Linked DNA regions of Homo sapiens: region 1 is linked to region 2. Evidence: fine-mapped expression QTL. Tissue or cell type: testis. Region 2 holds a variant in brackets; the other region holds the start of a gene. All regions are shown on one strand. Distances are from middle to middle.

Evidence for each region. PIP is the estimated chance that this variant, and not a neighbour inherited with it, causes the effect.
Region 1: WDR88 starts here. The variant in region 2 is fine-mapped to the expression of WDR88 in testis (GTEx, PIP above 0.99).

What each region holds. Positions count from the first base shown.
Region 1 is chr19:33,126,946-33,135,123 of GRCh38, forward strand. WDR88 (WD repeat domain 88) reads left to right here and starts at 5,169. Exons shown (of 11, transcript NM_173479.4): 1 at 5,169-5,500. The coding sequence starts at 5,225. It overlaps GPATCH1 (G-patch domain containing 1), which reads left to right. Exons shown (of 20, transcript NM_018025.3): 20 at 3,185-3,597. The coding sequence ends at 3,215. RefSeq lists enhancers at 368-537, 5,006-5,175, 8,013-8,062 and silencers at 2,104-2,248, 7,813-7,932.
Region 2 is chr19:33,151,091-33,159,268 of GRCh38, forward strand. It overlaps WDR88 (WD repeat domain 88), which reads left to right. Exons shown (of 11, transcript NM_173479.4): 6 at 91-220; 7 at 5,265-5,452. Among named protein-coding and RNA genes, the nearest start is that of TRT-AGT1-3, 22 kb to the right of the region's middle. RefSeq lists an enhancer at 192-361 and a cis regulatory region at 277. The variant C/T (reference allele first, on the strand shown) is at 3,753.

The DNA.
Region 1 (8,178 bases), 24 kb before region 2:
AGCTCTACAAAAACAAACAAACAAACAAACAAAAAACAAATTAGCTGGGCGTGGTGGTGCACACCTGTGCCTCCAGCTATTTGGGAAGCTGAGGTGGGAGGATCTGTTGAGCCCGGGAGTTGGAGGTTGCAGTGAGCCACTATCGTACCACTACACTCCAGCCTGGGTGATAGAGCAAGACCCTCTCCCTAAAAGAAAAAAAAAAATGTGTGTATTAACTAGGCTTTTTAAAAAGTTTGAATATCTAATTATGTAAGTGATATGTGAATATATTATCATTATGAAAATTCAGGCCAGGCGCGGTGGCTCATGCCTGTAATCCCAGCACTTTGGGAGGCCGAGGCGGGTGGATCACAAGGTCAGGAGCTCGAGACCATCCTGGCTAACACAGAGAAACCCCGTCTCTACTAAAAATACAAAAATTAGCTGGGCGTGGAGCGTGTGCCTGTAGTTCCAGCTGCTGGGGAGGCTGAGGCAGGAGAATGGCGTCAACCTGGGAGGCGGAGCTTGCAGTGAGCCGAGATTGTGCCACTGCCCTCCAGCCTGGGCGACAGAGCGAGACTCTTGTCTCAATAAAAAAAAAAAAAAAAAGAAAAGAAAATTCAGACCTTACAGCCAATGCTTAAAGGAGCCCTGACTAGTTCTCCAAACCTCTACTTTCTCCACAGTAACTTCTGCCATCAGTTTCATATGTAACCTTTAAGACCTTTTTTGTGCAACCACACACACACACATACACACTCACGTACATGGATGCACATACACATTGTTTGTTTCTTTTTTAGACGAGTCTCGTTCTGTCACCCAGGCTGGAGTGCAGTGGTGCGATCTTGGCTCAGTGCAACCTCTGCCTCCCGGGTTCAAGCAGTTCTCCTACCTCAGCCTCCCAAGCAACTGGGATTACAGGCACCCGCCCCCACACCCAGCTAATTTTTGTATTTTGTATTTTTTTAGTAGAGACAGTGTTTCGTCATGTTGGCCAGGCTGGTCTCAAACTCCTGACCTCAGGTGATACACCCACCTTGGCCTCTGAGTGCCAGGATTACAGGTGTGAACCACCATGCCTGGCCTATATACAGATTTTTGTGCACATTTTAAATATAAGTAATATAATTTTATATAGCATATATTTATAGGGTATGAATTTTATTTTATTTTTTGAGACAGAGTCTCGCTCTGTGACCCAGGCTGGAGTGCAGTGGCCTGATCACAGCTCACTGTAAACTCTGCCTCTCCGGCTCAAGGGATCCTCCCACCTCAGCCTTCAGAGTAGCTGGGACTGTAAGTGTGCACCACCACACCCAGCTAATTTTTTTAAAAAATCATTTTTTTTGAGACAGAGTCTTGCTCTGTCACCCAAGCTGGAGTGCAGTGGCGCGATCTTGGCTCACTGCAAGCTCCACCTCCTGGGTTCACGCCATTCTCCTGCCTCAGCCTCCTGAGTAGCTGGGACTACAGGTACCCGCCACCACGTCCAGCTAATTTTTTGTATATTTAGTAGAGACGGGGTTTCACCGTGTTAGCCAGGATGGTCTCAATCTCCTGACCTGGTGATCCGCCTGCCTTGGCCTCCCAAAGTGCCGGGATTACAGGCGTGAGCCACCACACCCGGCCTAAAAAAATCTTTTTTGTAGAGATGGGATCTCCTATGTTGCCCAAACTGGTCTCGAACTCCTGGCCTCAAGTGATCCTCCTGCCTCAGCCTCAGGCGTGAGCCGCTGCGCAGGCCTGCTCTTGCCAGTTTTATCTTTATTGGGAAGAAGGGTGTTGTGTGAATTCTTTGAGTGTCTGGCTTCTGAGATTCCTTCAGATGATGGTAGGCAGCAGTGAGGGGCTTGTAGTCATTGCTGTGGAAGATTCCTTCTTGTGAGCACACCACGGTATGTTTATCTCTTCTGTTGTGTGGATACTGGGTTTTTTACTTTGAGTCTGTGGAGCAGGGATTTTCAGCCAGTGTGACCCAGCTCTGTTTCAAATAGAACTGCCACGAACATTCCTATATGTATGAAATTCAGATTTAGGCCAGGTGCGGTATCTCACGTCTGTAATCCCAGCACTCTGGGAGGCCGAGGCAGGCGGATCATGAGGTCAGGAAATCGAGACTATCCTGGTTAACACAATGAAACCCCAAACCCCATCTCTACTAAAAAAACTAGCCAGGCGTGGTGGCACGTGCCTGTAGTCCCAGCTACTCAGGAGGTGGAGGCAGGAGAATCGCTTGAACCTGGGAGGTGGAGGTTGCAGTGAACCGAGATCGCGCCACTGTACTCCAGCCTGGGTGACAGAGACTCTGTCTCAAAAAAAAAAAAAGAAAAGAAATTCAGATTTAAGACTGACAACTTGGGGGCTGGGCATGGTGGCTCATGCCTGTAATCCCAATACCTTGGGAGGTCAAGATGGGAGGATCGCTTGAGCCCAGGAGTTCAAGACCAGCTCGGGTAATATAGGGAGACCCTGTCTCTATAAAAAAATTAAAAAAAAAAAAAAGACAACTTGGATGCTTTGGGCCCTGGAGTGAATGTATTTTAGTTCCTTCCCAAGGGTCATGCAACGGATGCGGTAGGTGAGTGAAACTGAGATTAAAAATTGCTTGTATTCTCAAGGCTAAATAAGACTAGGGAAAAAAGTTGCTTTTATAAGTGGTCTTAATACGAGGTGTGGGTGAGTGAGTCTCTGTGTGTTTTCAGGGTAATAGAAGAAGCATTTTAAGAACACAGATTGGCCGGGTACGGTGGCTCATGCCTGTAATCCCAGCACTTTGGGAGGCCGAGGCGGGCAGATCACAGTCAGGAGTTCGAAACAAGCCTGGCCAACATGGTGAAACCCCATCTGTACTAAAAATACAAAAATTAGCTGGGTATGGTGGCATGTGCCTGTAATCCCAGCTACTCTGGAGGCTGAGGCAGGAGACTTGCTTAAACCTGGGAGGCGGAGGTTGCAGTGAGCTGAGATCGCACCACTGCGCTCCAGCCTGGGCGACAAAAGTGAGACTCCATCTCGGGGGAAAAAAAAAAAAAAGCACAGATTAGGCAGTACTTCATTGTGGGTTATTGTGAGTGCATTTTGTAGGTGCAGACATGCTGCTGTGATATGGGGAGGCCTGGCATTCTCAGCCTCCACGGAGCTGTTTGGTTTTTCACTTTAGCTAACTTTCCATTTCTCTCTTTTCTGTTTTCTTTTCCAGGCTGAAAAGTCTTCCACTAAGAAGGCAGTAATTGAATGCTGCCCTGGCTCGTCCTAGAATCATTTCTCCTCCATGATGGAAGCCCAGTGATTGTTCAGTTAACGCATTGTACAGAGTGTATTTATATGTAAATTCCTGCTGTAAAATAATTTTTAAAACCTTGACATTTCAAAGACTGCCTTGAAAGGTCGCAGAAATTGATTTCTATTTTTAATTTCAGTTAGTATCGGGGGAAAAAAATCCAGACTGAACAGTTTAATTAAAGTGGAATTTTTCTATTTTCTTCTTGATTTTTAAAAAATTTCCTGGGACGTTAAAAAAGAAGTTAAAAGTGAAGGCTTCTCTCTGGTTTTGTGATGAAGACAGCCTGGACTCACTGAAGGACAAGCGTGTGAGAAGGGGCGGTTGCGGCCCCTCCTGCCGTTTTTTGGGAGTGAAGCTCTTCCCTCTCTGGGTGGCTGGGTTACTGTTGGTGCCCAGGAAGCCCCATGGGAGGGCAGAGCCAGGGCCTGGCAGGGGGCCTCAGCCTCTCAGGGTAGATGTCACTAAAGTGTCTGAGACAGGCAGGGAAACCAGGCAGGAGAATGTGCACCCACAGCCTGGGTTACACGGCTGCAGCTCCCTGCTCTGAGGCCACCTCATGTGTACCAAGGAGACCTTTTTGAAAAATAAAGTGCAGACCAGGTGTGATGGCTAATGCCTGTAATCCCAGAGCTTTGGGAGGCCGAGGCGGGAGGATTGCTTGAGCCCAGGAATTCCAGACCAGCCTGGGCCACATAGAGACCCCTGTCTCCACAAAAAATAAAGTATTGAGCATTTGTATTTTACATTATGAAAGTAGCATCATAGATCACAACAATTTTAAAAGCAGAAAGAAGGAAGAGGCCGGGTGCGGTGGCCCATGCTTGTAATCCCAGCACTTTGGGAGGCCGAGGCCAGCGGATCACTTGAGGCCAGGAGTTCAAAAACAGCCTGGCCAACATGGCGAAACCTTGTCTCTACTAAAAATACAAAAAAATTAGCCAGGTCTGGTGAGCATACACCTGTAATCCCAGCTGTGTGGGAGGCTGAGGCACGAGAATCCTTTGAACCCTGGAGGTGGAGGTTGCAGTGAGCCGAAATTGCGCTACTGCAATCCAGCCTGGGTGACAGACTCTTGTCTCCACCAAAAAAAAAAAAAAAAAAAAAGAAGGAAGAAAATCACTTTTAGTTTTATCATCCAAAGATGACACCCTTCTTCAATATTTTGAATAATTCCACCCTGTCCTTTTCTAGCTATGGGGCTGTTATCTGACTGGTGGTAGCATTTTATTCCCTGTCACTGTTGTTGGGGTTGTGACAGATATTTCCCTCATCTATTATAAATGTTGTAAACCCACCCCTAATAACTGCATCTTATTTCATGCAGGGGCTACCCCATAACTTACTGACCTTTTCTGTTTTGTCATGAAGTGGGTTGGCCAGGAGCTGTACCCAGGCAGAGGACATGAAGAAATTGCCCTGTGACAGGAGCCAGGGAAACCACAGCGGAGGGCTGGAGGCTGGGGTGCTGGTTTTGCTGGCTCGGCCTGGTTCCCAGAATGCAAAGCCCATTTTTCTTTTTTTTGCAACCTCCACCTCCTGGGTTCAAGCCATTCCCCTGCCTCAGCCTCCCATGTAGCTGGAACTACAGGCGCACGCCCCCATGCCTGGCTAATTTTTGTTATTATTTTTTTTAAGTAAAGATGGGGTTTCACTAAACCTGTTGGCCAGGCTGGTCTCCAACTCCTGACCTCAGGTAATCCGCCCGCCTCGGCCTCCCAAAGTGCCGGGATTACAGGCGTGAGCCACCGCGCCCGGCTGCAAAGCCCATTTTTCTATAGGTAACCTGTGCTGCGCGGGGTGGCACTAGTTTTCACCCAGCGGGCGAGGAGGCAGCGAAGTCGCGGGCCCAGCGTAGCGCGCGCCTCCGAAGGGCTTGGTGCGGGCGCGGGCGCGGGCGCGCGGCGCCACCGTTCCCATCCAGGCTTGTCGGCGGCCACCGGCGGACCGGGCTTCGAGATGGCCTCCCCGCCGCGGTGCTCCCCGACAGCCCATGACAGGGAATGCAAGTTGCCGCCACCCTCCGCCCCCGCCAGCGAGTATTGTCCCGGCAAGCTGTCCTGGGGGACCATGGCGAGGGCCTTAGGCCGCTTCAAGCTGTCGATCCCGCACACGCACCTGCTGGCCACCCTCGACCCCCTGGCCTTGGACAGGGAACCACCACCGCATCTGTTGCCTGAGAAGCACCAGGTGCCGGAGAAATTGATCTGGGGCGACCAGGACCCTCTCTCCAAGGTCAGAACCGCCGCTGGGGTGAGGGGGCACTGGCCTGTTCCCCACACGGGAGGAAGGCGCTCGAGCTGTCGGGGGACCCATGGAAAACCCACCTGGCTTCACCAGGACCCCCAGCGAGGCCCTAGGCCCATTTCCCCATCTGTGGTACATCTGTGGGCAAAGGTCAGACCCACCTGAGCAGGGCGTGCTGGGGATGCCGGCGGGGGCTCCCCGCACTGCCACCTGCTGGGGAACCAGGACTCTTCGCTGGGAGGAGGCTCTGCCCCACCATGTGACCCCATCTAGACCTTGGAGTCTCCGTAGGTAGGCCCACCCACAGTGATGCTCCTAATTGCAGCCCAAGGGTCGGTGGCTCAGCTCTCCCCGTCCAGGAGATACAGTTAGCGTCAGAAGAAACGGGAAACTCAGAATAATAATAACAACAATGAATTGGGCCAGGCAAGGTGGCTCACACCTGTAATCCCAGCCCTTTGGGAGGCCCAGGTGGGAGGATCACTTGAGCCCAGGAGTTTGAGACCAGCCTGGGCAACATAGTGAGAGGTCGTCTCTACAAGAAATAAACTTAGCCCAGTGTGATGGGGCGCACCTGTGGTCCCAGCCACTTGAAAGGCTGAGGCAAGAGGATCCCTTGAACCCAGGAGTTTAAGGCTGCAGTGAGCTATGATTGTGCCACTGCACTCCAGCCTGGGCAACAGAGCGAGACTGTCTCCAGAATAAATAAATAAATAAATAAATAAATAAATAAATAAATATAGAGAGAGAGAGAGAAAGAAAGAAAGAAAAAGAAAAAGAAAGAAAGAAGGAGAAAGAAAGAAAAACTGGCTGGGTGCAGTGGCTCATGTCTGTAATCCCAGCACTTTGGGAAGCCGAGATGAGCAGATCACTTGAGGTCAAGGGTTCGAGACCAGCCTGGCTAACATGGTGAAACCCTTTCTCTACTAAAAATGCAAAAATTAGCCAGGCATGGTGGTGCGTGCCTGTAATCCCAGCTACTCAGGAGGCTGAGGCAGCAAGATCATTTGAACCCGGGAGGCAGAGGTTGCAGTGAGCTGAGATCATCTCACTCCATCTCAAAAACAAAACAAAACAAAAACCCAATAAAGAACATTCTCAATAAGTAGCGTTTCATGCTTGGCCTTGATTTATTGCACTCACATGCAGATGTCAGAGTGTGTTTTTAATAATTTCCTCGAAACCTCTGCCTGGCTTCCCAGCATGTTTAAGATGAAGTCTGGCGATCTGCCTGTGGCCTTCCAGGCCATTTCAAATCTGGCACCTCTCCATGTTCTCCTCCCCCATCCCCCTGTCTTGCTGACCTACAAGCAGGTCTGGCCTCAGGGATCTTGGCGGTTCCCTGCCCCCACGGTATTGCGCTCTTGGGGAGGCCCTCCCTGACCGCCCGTCTAAAGTAGCCAGGGCCACTGTCTCCTCCGTGCCTCATGCCATGGTCTGACATCCCCGTTCCGTCCTCAAGGTGTCCTCTGGCTGCCAGCAACTGGCCCCTCGAGGTTAGGGACTTTGCTCCTAGGTGGCTGCTGAGCTGCAGCATCAGGTCCAGGCCCCATGGGGGAGGAGGCTCTTGAGGTTTATTTGTGGAATATGTGAATGAACGCTACGCATAGAAGAACCGTTTTGTTTTTGCTCTGTCCTCTGCATGAGCTTTGTCAGCACCTCTGAAATGTACTCATGTGTTGGGGACTTCTCTCTGCAGCCCCTGGGACCCCTTTACCTAGTGGATCCCAAGGGACTGTGTGCAGAAAAAAACCTGAAACGAGAGCCCCAGAAAAGCCTGTGGTGGGGGTAGCGGAATGGTTCCCCCCTCTTGCTAATGTTTTTCCATGATGGAGTTCTAGGTTTTTTGTTTTCCTATTTTTTAAATTAAATTATATATTTTTTAAATTATTAATTTTAATTTTGATTTTTTTTGTAGAGAGGGGGAGTCTCGCCATGTTGCCCAGGCTGGTCTTAAACTCCTGGCCTCAAGCAATCCTCACTCCTGGGCCTCCCAAAGCACTGGAATTGCATGCGTGAGCCACTGCACCCAGCCAATTTAATTTCAATTTTTAATGATAGTTGGGTTTTCCTAATGAGAGAGATAACCCAAACCCTGCAGGGGCGGCAGGGGCTGGGGTCGCCAGAGGCGGGGGCGGTGCGGGAGGGCCGCGCAGGTCATGTCCCGGGGACTGGGGCCGCTCCTGGGGTAGGGAGCCAACCCTGCACGCGCGGCCCCGGCCTGGCCCGACGGGGTTAGCGAACTCCCCCGGAGAAAAGCCCGGTCCCAGCTCTCCACGCTCCCTGGCAACGGAGCCCGCGTTCCAGTGTCCTCGTGTCCCCGAGCCCCCTAGAGGCGGGGTATCATCTCATCCCCTGCATCTCCACCTGCACGTCCCCGACACCCCCCCCCCCGCCCCGCATCACCTGCAACCGGAAGGCCACCGCCGCCCTGAACCGTCGCATCCCCTCACCCCTGTCCTCCTGCCAACTCAGCCCAGCACCCTGACACTGCCTTCCAGGCCACACCCCTGGTCTTGCCTCCAACATTTCCCCCACCCCCACACTTCCGCAGCTCAACCTGGGACGTGTCGCCATGCGCGAGCTGGGGTGGGTGGGTGGGGGGGGTGACATCTTCAGGCTTCCCTGCTCTGTCCTCTTTTTTTCCCCCCAGTTTTACTGAGATA
Region 2 (8,178 bases):
TAATCGTCACTGGCTGGGGAAGTCGTGGGAGTCCTCCAGCCCAGCAGGTGGAAGGCGTGGTCTCAAGTCCCTTTCCTCCGTGTTCTGCAGATCATCACACAAGGTCCATCACGTCATGCTGCTTTGACCCCGACAGCCAGAGGGTGGCTTCTGTCTCATTGGACAGGTGCATCAAGATCTGGGATGTTACATCCCAGGCCACGCTGCTCACCATCACTAAGTGAGTTGGACCCCAGGAGGCCAGAAGGGAGTTTGGGTGGGGCGTCCCCATTCATGACTTCCTGAATTCCACATAAGCCAGCATCCATGTGGACACGTCTGTAGCTTGGTCATAGGTGCTCTGAGGAGGCTGGGGACAGGCAGGCAGGAGGGAGCCATCAGCTGTGGCCTGTGGGCTGGGCTGGGCCTCAGATGCATTTGTTTCAATGTGAGCCACTAGTGGAAATCATTGTGCAGAGAAGTCCACAAAAGGTGAAGTTCCAGCATCTCCTGTAAAATGGGAAGGTCTGGCTGGGCGTGTGGCTCATGGCTATAATCCCAGAGCTTTGGGAGGCCAAAGTGGGAGGATCACTTCAGGCCAGGAGTTCAACACCAGCCTGGGCAATGTCACAAGACCCCATCTCTACAAAAAATTTAAAAATTAGCTGGGTGTGGTGTCACACACCTGTAGTCCCAGCTACTCAGGAGGCTGAGGCTGGAGGATTGCTTGAGCCTAGGAGTTTGAGGCTGCTGTGAGCTATGATTGCACCACTGCACCCCAGCCTGGACAATGAAGTAAGACCCTGTCTAAAAAAAATAAATAAATAAAGTGAATTCAGTCGTTTTGGAGATATTACATTATCATTTAAAAAAATTTTGGGGCTGGGCTCGGTGGCTCATGCCTGTAATCCCAGCACTTTGGGAGGCCGAGTGGGGCGGATCACCTGAGGTCAGGAGTTCGAGACCAGCCTGGTCAACATAGTGAAACCCCACCTCTAGTAAAAATACAAAACTTAGCTGGGCGTGGTGGCGGGCACCTGTAATCCCAGCTATTCAGGAGGCTGAGGAAGGAGAATAGCTTGAATCCGGGAGGTGGAGGTTGCAGTGAGCCAAGATTGTGCCACTGCACTCCAGCCTAGGTGACAGAGTGAGACTCTGTCTCAAAATATATATATATATATATACACGCACACAACATAAAACATGATATTTTAACCATTTTTAAGTGTGCAATTCTCTGCCATTCATTACATTCACAGTGTTGTGCAACCATCACCACTATTTATTTCCAAAATGATTTCATCATCTCAGACAGAAGCTCTTACCCGTTAAGCAATAACTCCCCATTCCCCATGCCCCCAGCCCTGGGTAATGTTTATTCTACTTTCTGTCTCTATGAATCTGCCTATTCTAGATATTTCATATAAGTAGAGTCATACATTATTTGTCCTCTTGTGATTAGGTTATTTCACTTAAAATAATGTCCTCAAGGTTCATCTGTGTTGTAGCCTGCATCAGAACATCAGAACTTCATTCCTTTTTTTTCCTTTGAGACTTAGTCTCGCTATGTCCCCCAGGCTGGAGTGCAGTGGTGCCATCTTGGCTCACTGCAACCTCTGCCTCCTGGGTTCAAGTGATTCTCCTGCTTCAGCCTCCTGAGTAGCTGGGATTACAGGCGCCCACCACCACACCTGGCTAATTTCTGTATTATTAGTAGAGACGGGGTTTCATCATGTTGGCCAGGCTGGTCTCAAACTCCTGACCTTGTCATCCACCCACCTCGGCCTCCCACAGTGCTGGGATTAAGAACTTCATTCCTTTTGATGACTGAATAGTACTGCATTATAGGTGTACATACCACATTTTGTTTATCTGTTCATCTGTTGATGACCTCTTAGGCTGTTTCTACCTTTTAGTTATTGGGAATAATGCTGCTATGAACACATGTACATGTAACTTTGAGTTCCTGCTTTCAATTCTTTTTATTTTATTTGATTTCGAGACAGAGTCTTGCTCTGTTGCCCAGGCTGGAGTGCAGTGACGTGATCATAGCTCACTGGAGCCTCGGATTCCTAGGCTCAAGTGATCCTCTTGCCTCAACTTCCTGAGTAGCTGAGACTACAGGTGCACACCACCATGCCTGGCTAATTTTTAAGTTTGTTTTTTTTTTTTTTTTGCAGAAACGGGGTCTCATTATGTCTCCCAAGCTAGTCCTGAACTTCTGAGCTCAAGTGATCCTCTCACTTTGGCCTCCCAAAGTTCTGGGATGACAGGTGTGAGCCACTGCACCTGGCCTGTTTTTAATTCTTTACTCTGTATACCCAGGAGTGGAATTGTTGGATCATATGGTAATACTGTGCTTAGCTTTTTCAGGAGTGGGGATCTTGCTTATTAATTTTGCACTGAGAACTGAAAATGATATAGCCCGACCGACATTATGAATTTTTTAAATCCTCTAGCAAGATCAGCTATATCATTTGCAGGGTGCAATCTCGGCTCGCTGCAACCTCCGCCTCCCGGGTTCAAGCAATTCTCCTGCCTCAGCCTCCCGAGTAGGTGGGACTACAGGCGCCCGCCACCATGCCCAACTAATTTTTGTATTTTTAGTAGAGACAGGGTTTCACCACATTGGCCAGGCTGGTCTCAAACTCCTGACCTTGTGATCCACCCACCTCGGCCTCCCAAAGTGCTGGGATTACAGGCATGAGCCACAGTGCCTGGCCACACTGTGGTTTTCATTTACACTGTCATTCATATTGTTTTTCTCCTATAGGTAAAAAGTCATTTCTCTCTTGCTGCTCTGAAGATATTTTTGTTGTCCTTAGTTTTCTGAAGTGTAATTATGTGTCTGGGTGTAGATTTCTTTGGATTTATCCTGTTGGGTTTTACTCAGATTCTTGAATCTGTAGGTTTATATATTTTGCCAAATTTGGTAAAATTTCAGCCATTTAAAAAAATTACTTTTAAAGTTGACTCCATCTTGTCCAGAACTGTACGTGCAGCATAGCCATTTTCCCCAAACTTCTGTACAGGTGAAATGGCCTTCTACGAGAAGTGGGATTTATGTGAAATGAGAGTCCATAGAGATACCTCTGGTTTATTTATTTATTTATTTATGTATTTATTTATTTAGAAATTGCTATGTCTTTTTTTTTACTTTAAGTTCCAGGACACATGTGCAGAATGTGCAGGTTTGTTACATAGGTACACATGTGCCACGGTGGTTTGCTGCATCTATCAACACGTCATCTAGGTTTTAAGCCCCGCATGTGTTAGGTATTTGCCCTAATGCTCTCCCTCCACTTGCCTCCCACCCCCTGACAGGCCTCAGTGTGTGATGTTCCCCTCCCTGTGTCTATGTGTTCTCACTGTTCAACTCCCACTTATGAATGAGAACGTGTGGTGTTTGGTCTTCTGTTCCTGTGTTAGTTTGCTGAGGATGATGTCCCTGCAAAGGACATGATCTCATTCTTTCTCATGGCTGCATAGTATTCCATGGTGTATATGTACCACATTTTCTTTATCCGGTCTATCATTGATGGGCATTTGGGTTGACACGAAGTCTTTGCTATTGTGAATAATGCTGCAATAAACATACGTGTGCATGTGTATTTATAGAAGAATGATTTATAATCCTCTGGGTATACCTCTGGTTTAAACCTCAATGACAGTGTCTGGCTGCTGGGAGAGCTTGCAGTCAAACCTCCATGATATGCCAGCATGGTTCTTAGCTCACCAGGCACTGGGAATTGGTGAGGTTTATCCCGGATGGC[C/T]CTGCGAAGTTGACATTTCTTCTCCTTTGGCGTTGCTCAGTTTGTGCCTTTCAAAGAACCAAAATGGGTTCCAAAACTCTGATCTGAGCTCTAGAAAATTGTTTTGCTCAACCTTTTCTTCAGGTCAAATGATTGATTTTATGATCCAGGCTACTCAGAGAAAACTCTGCTTACAAGAGGAGGTGAGAATCACAGGAGAAAGACATTGAGGGTTACAAACAAAAAGTGGCAAAATACAGACAGGCTTTTTATTATTATTATTTTTCTGAAAAAGAAGATGCTTAAAAATTGGAATGAATAACTTCATTTTTTTTCTGAGATAGAGTCTTGCACTGTTGCCCAGGCTGGAGTGCAATGGCACAATCTTGGCTCACTGCAACCTCCACCTCCTGGGTTCAAGTGATTCTCCTGCCTCAGCCTCCAGAGTAGCTGGGACTACAGGCATGTGCCACCATGCCCAGCTAATTTTTATATTTTTTGTAGAGATGGGGTCTTGCTATGTTGCCCAGGCTGGTGTCAAAATCCTGGGCTCAAGCAATCCTTCCACCTAGGCCTCCCAAAGTGCTGGGATTATAGGCATGAGCCACTGCACCCAGCCAAATAACCCACAATTTTATTAATTAAATATACAACACTGAAATATACTTGAATAGCACTGAAGACAAATGAGGATAGGAGTGAGAAAAAGGGAGAGTGAATAGTTGGGGTGGAGAAGCAGAGGAGTAAGTAAGAGAGGGGTGGAACAGGGGGAGACCACGCCTGACATTGTTGGGGGAAAGATGGGGAGCAGGAGAGAGCCTCTGTGTAAGCGCCACCCAGCACCAAGCCCCAAAGGCTGTCTGTCAATCAATCACTCCTGACACCAGCTGCTTTTCCCTCCAGCGCCAAGGGAATACTGCAGAATCTTCCCAAATGAGGGCAATTTGTGCCCCAGTGGACATTTGACAATGTCTGGACTCATGTTTTGTTGTCACAACTGGGTGTGGGGGTTCCTGGCATCTAGCCAGGAGAGGCCAGGGATGCTGCTCCACCTCCTACAGAACACAGGACGGCCCCCACAACTCTGAGTGACCCAGCTCAAAATGTCCACCTTGGTGTGGTTGGCCCAGTGCCGTGGCTCACGCCTGTAATCCCAGCACTACTTTGGGAGGCCAAGGCAGGTGGACCACTAGAGCCTAGGAGTTTGAGAGCAGCCTGGGTAACATAGCGAAACACTGTCTCTATTATTATTTTTCTAAAAATTGGTGCAGTCGAGAAATGCTGGAACAGCGTGACAGTCTGAGCAATTCACATCTGGACCATGGTAGGCAGTGATCAAAGGCATGATGAACATGAGCTCACAGGAGATGCTGACCCCCACTTAGGTATGTCTTCAGGTCCTCTTGGGGCGAAGTGCTAGCATGTGCAGCCCGACCATGAGCTCACAGGAGAAAATACCCCCGGCTTTAGGTATGTCTTCAGGTCCTCCAGGAGCAAAGCGCTAATGTGTGCACCCCACCATCTGTGTTTCAGGGCACATTCCAATGCAATCTCAAACTGCTGTTTTACCTTCAGTGGCCATTTCCTGTGTACAAGCTCCTGGGATAAAAACTTAAAAATATGGAACGTCCACACAGGGGAGTTTCGAAACTGTGGAGCCTGTGTGACTCTGATGCAGGGCCATGAAGGTTCTGTCAGTTCCTGTCACTTTGCCAGAGACAGTGAGTAATTAACATGCAGAAGGCCTCCATTCCTGTGGGAGTGCTGGGCAGAGTTCTCCATGTTCCGTTCAAATGGACAGAGAGGCAATTTCCAATGATGCTGACAGGGAGGGCGGATTCTTCCCCACGAGAACAAAAAACCCAAGAGGGAAGACCACAGGTACCAGTTTACAGTGGTAGAAACTCAGCTCAATGTGGCGTATGCAACCAAAGAAATTGATTAATCCTGTAATGGAAAAGTCCAAGAGCACGTCTGACTTCAGGCATGGATGGGACAAGAGAGTCAATGCTGTTGGGAACCCAACCCTTCCACTCTGTCTTTCAACCTAGCTTCCCTCTGTATCAGCCTTTACCCCCAAGGAGGCAAAGATGGCCGGATGAGGTGCCTTATGCCTGTAATCCCAATGCTTTGGGAGGCCAAGGTGGGAGGACTGCTTGAAGCCAGGAGTTCAAGACCAGCCTGGGCAACACAGCAAGACCCTGTCTCTACAAAAAAATTAAAAAATTAGCTGGGTGTGGTGGTGCACACCTGTAGTCTCAGCTCTTCAAGAGGCTGAGGTGGGAGGATCACTTGAGCCCAGGAGTTTGAGGCTGCAGTGAGCTATGATTGTGCTACTGCACTCCAGCCTGGGCAACAGAGTGAGACCCTGTGTCTAAAAAGAAAAAAAAAAAGGCCAGGCACAATGGCTCATGCCTGTAATCCCAGCACTTTGGGAGGCTGAGGTGGGCGGATCACCTGAGGTCAGGAGTTCAAGATCAGCCTGGCCAACATGGTGAAACCCCATCTCTACTAAAAAATACAAAAATTAGCCAGGTGTGGTGGTGGATGCCTGTAATTCCAGCTATTCGGGAGCCTCAGGCAGGAGAATCGCTTGAACCCGGGAGGCGGAGGCTGCAGTGAGCCAAGATTGCACCACTGCACTCCAGCCTGGGTGACAGAGCGAGACTCTGTCTCAATATATATATATATGTATATATATGTGTATATATATATATATGTATATATATGTGTATATATATATGTATATATGTGTATATATATGTATATATGTGTATATATGTATATATATGTGTATATATATATGTATGTGTATATATGTGTGTGTGTATGTATATATGTATGTATGTGTGTGTGTGTATGTATGTATATATATATATATATATATATATATATATATATATATATATATATATAAAATTAAAGAGGTAAAGAGGACCTTTAGTGGTCCAGCTCAGCCTAGTTCTGGCCCCTGGCAGTCCTGGAGAAAGAGACCTTCTGTCTGATGGTGCCAGAACAAGTCCCAGGGAAGACTCCCATTGGCTCAGCTTGGGACACATGTCCATCTCTTAATGAATCACTTAGGGGGCAACGAAAGCCTCTGATTGGCCAGGTCTGGGTGACTTGCCCACCTGCAGAGCTAGGGTTGGGGTCAGAACCCCCTGATGCAGAGGGACTAAGAGTAGGCAAGGAGTGTTTCCCCACAGGAAATTGGGAGCTGTTGCCAGATAAAGGGACATAGAGGTGAATGGGGGCAGTGACAGGAAGCCACCGCGGCTAGCCAGCTCCAGGGAGGGAAGTGGGTGCTCTTGACACTCAGGAGCCAAACATATGCTCCCCTATCCTGGTGAGAAGTGGGGCTTGCTCTGTGTGTCTGGGGGCCTCAGCTGGCACACATGCCACTGGGGCCTGGCTTGAGAAGCACTAGGGTGCTTCTGGGCAACTTTCCCTCTTCAGCAGCACCCCTTGTCTAAGTCCCACTGTGAGGCACCCTGCCAGCTTCTGTCCTTGGCTTTATGGGGTTCAGAATCACATGCAGTTGAGCCAAAATTGTGCCACTGCGCTCCTACACTCTAGCCTGGGTGACGGAGTGAGACTCTGTCTCAAAAAAAGAAAAAAAGAAAGAAAAAAAAAAGAATCACATGCAGTTAATCATTATTATTCCTGATTCTGTATTTGTGAAGTCACCTACTTGCTGATATTTATTTGTAAACCTAAAGTCAACATTCATGGCACTTTCAAGGTCACTCACAGATGTGAAGAGCAGCAAAAAATCTAAGTCACCTCCCAGCTGAGGTTGGACAAGGCAACACTCTGCCTTCTTGTTTCACCTCCCACGTGGTAAAATGTCCTTTTTGTGGTCTATTTAGTGCCACCATTTTTTTTTGTTGTTGTTTGTTTGTTTTGCTCCCTCTGTTGCCCAGGCTGGAGCGCAGTTGCGCGATCTTGGCTCACTGCAACCTCTGCCTCCTGGGTTCAAGCGATTCTCCTGCTTCAGCCTTCCAAGTAGCTTGGATTACAGGTGCGCACTACCATGCCTGGCTAATTTTTGTATTTTTGGTAGAGATGGGGTTTCGCCATGTTGTCCAGGCTGGTCTTGAACTCCTGTCCTCATGTGATCTGCCTGCCTCAGCCTCCCAAAGTGCTGGGATTACAGACGTGAGCCACCACACCTGGGCTTTCTTTTGCTTTTTGTTAGTGATTTTGCTGTGTAAAATGGCTCCCTTGGCCGTGTGTGGTGGCTCACAGCTTTAATTTCAGTGCTGGGGGGGTGCTGAGGCGGGAGTATTGCTTGAACCCAGGAGTTTGAGATCAGCCTGGGCAACATAGTGAGACCCCATCTCTACCAAAACAAAAAAAAAAAATTTAGCCAGGTGTGCTGGCACCTGCTTGTAGTCCCAGCTACTTGGTAACTGAAGTGGGAGGATTGCTTGAGACCAGGAGTTTG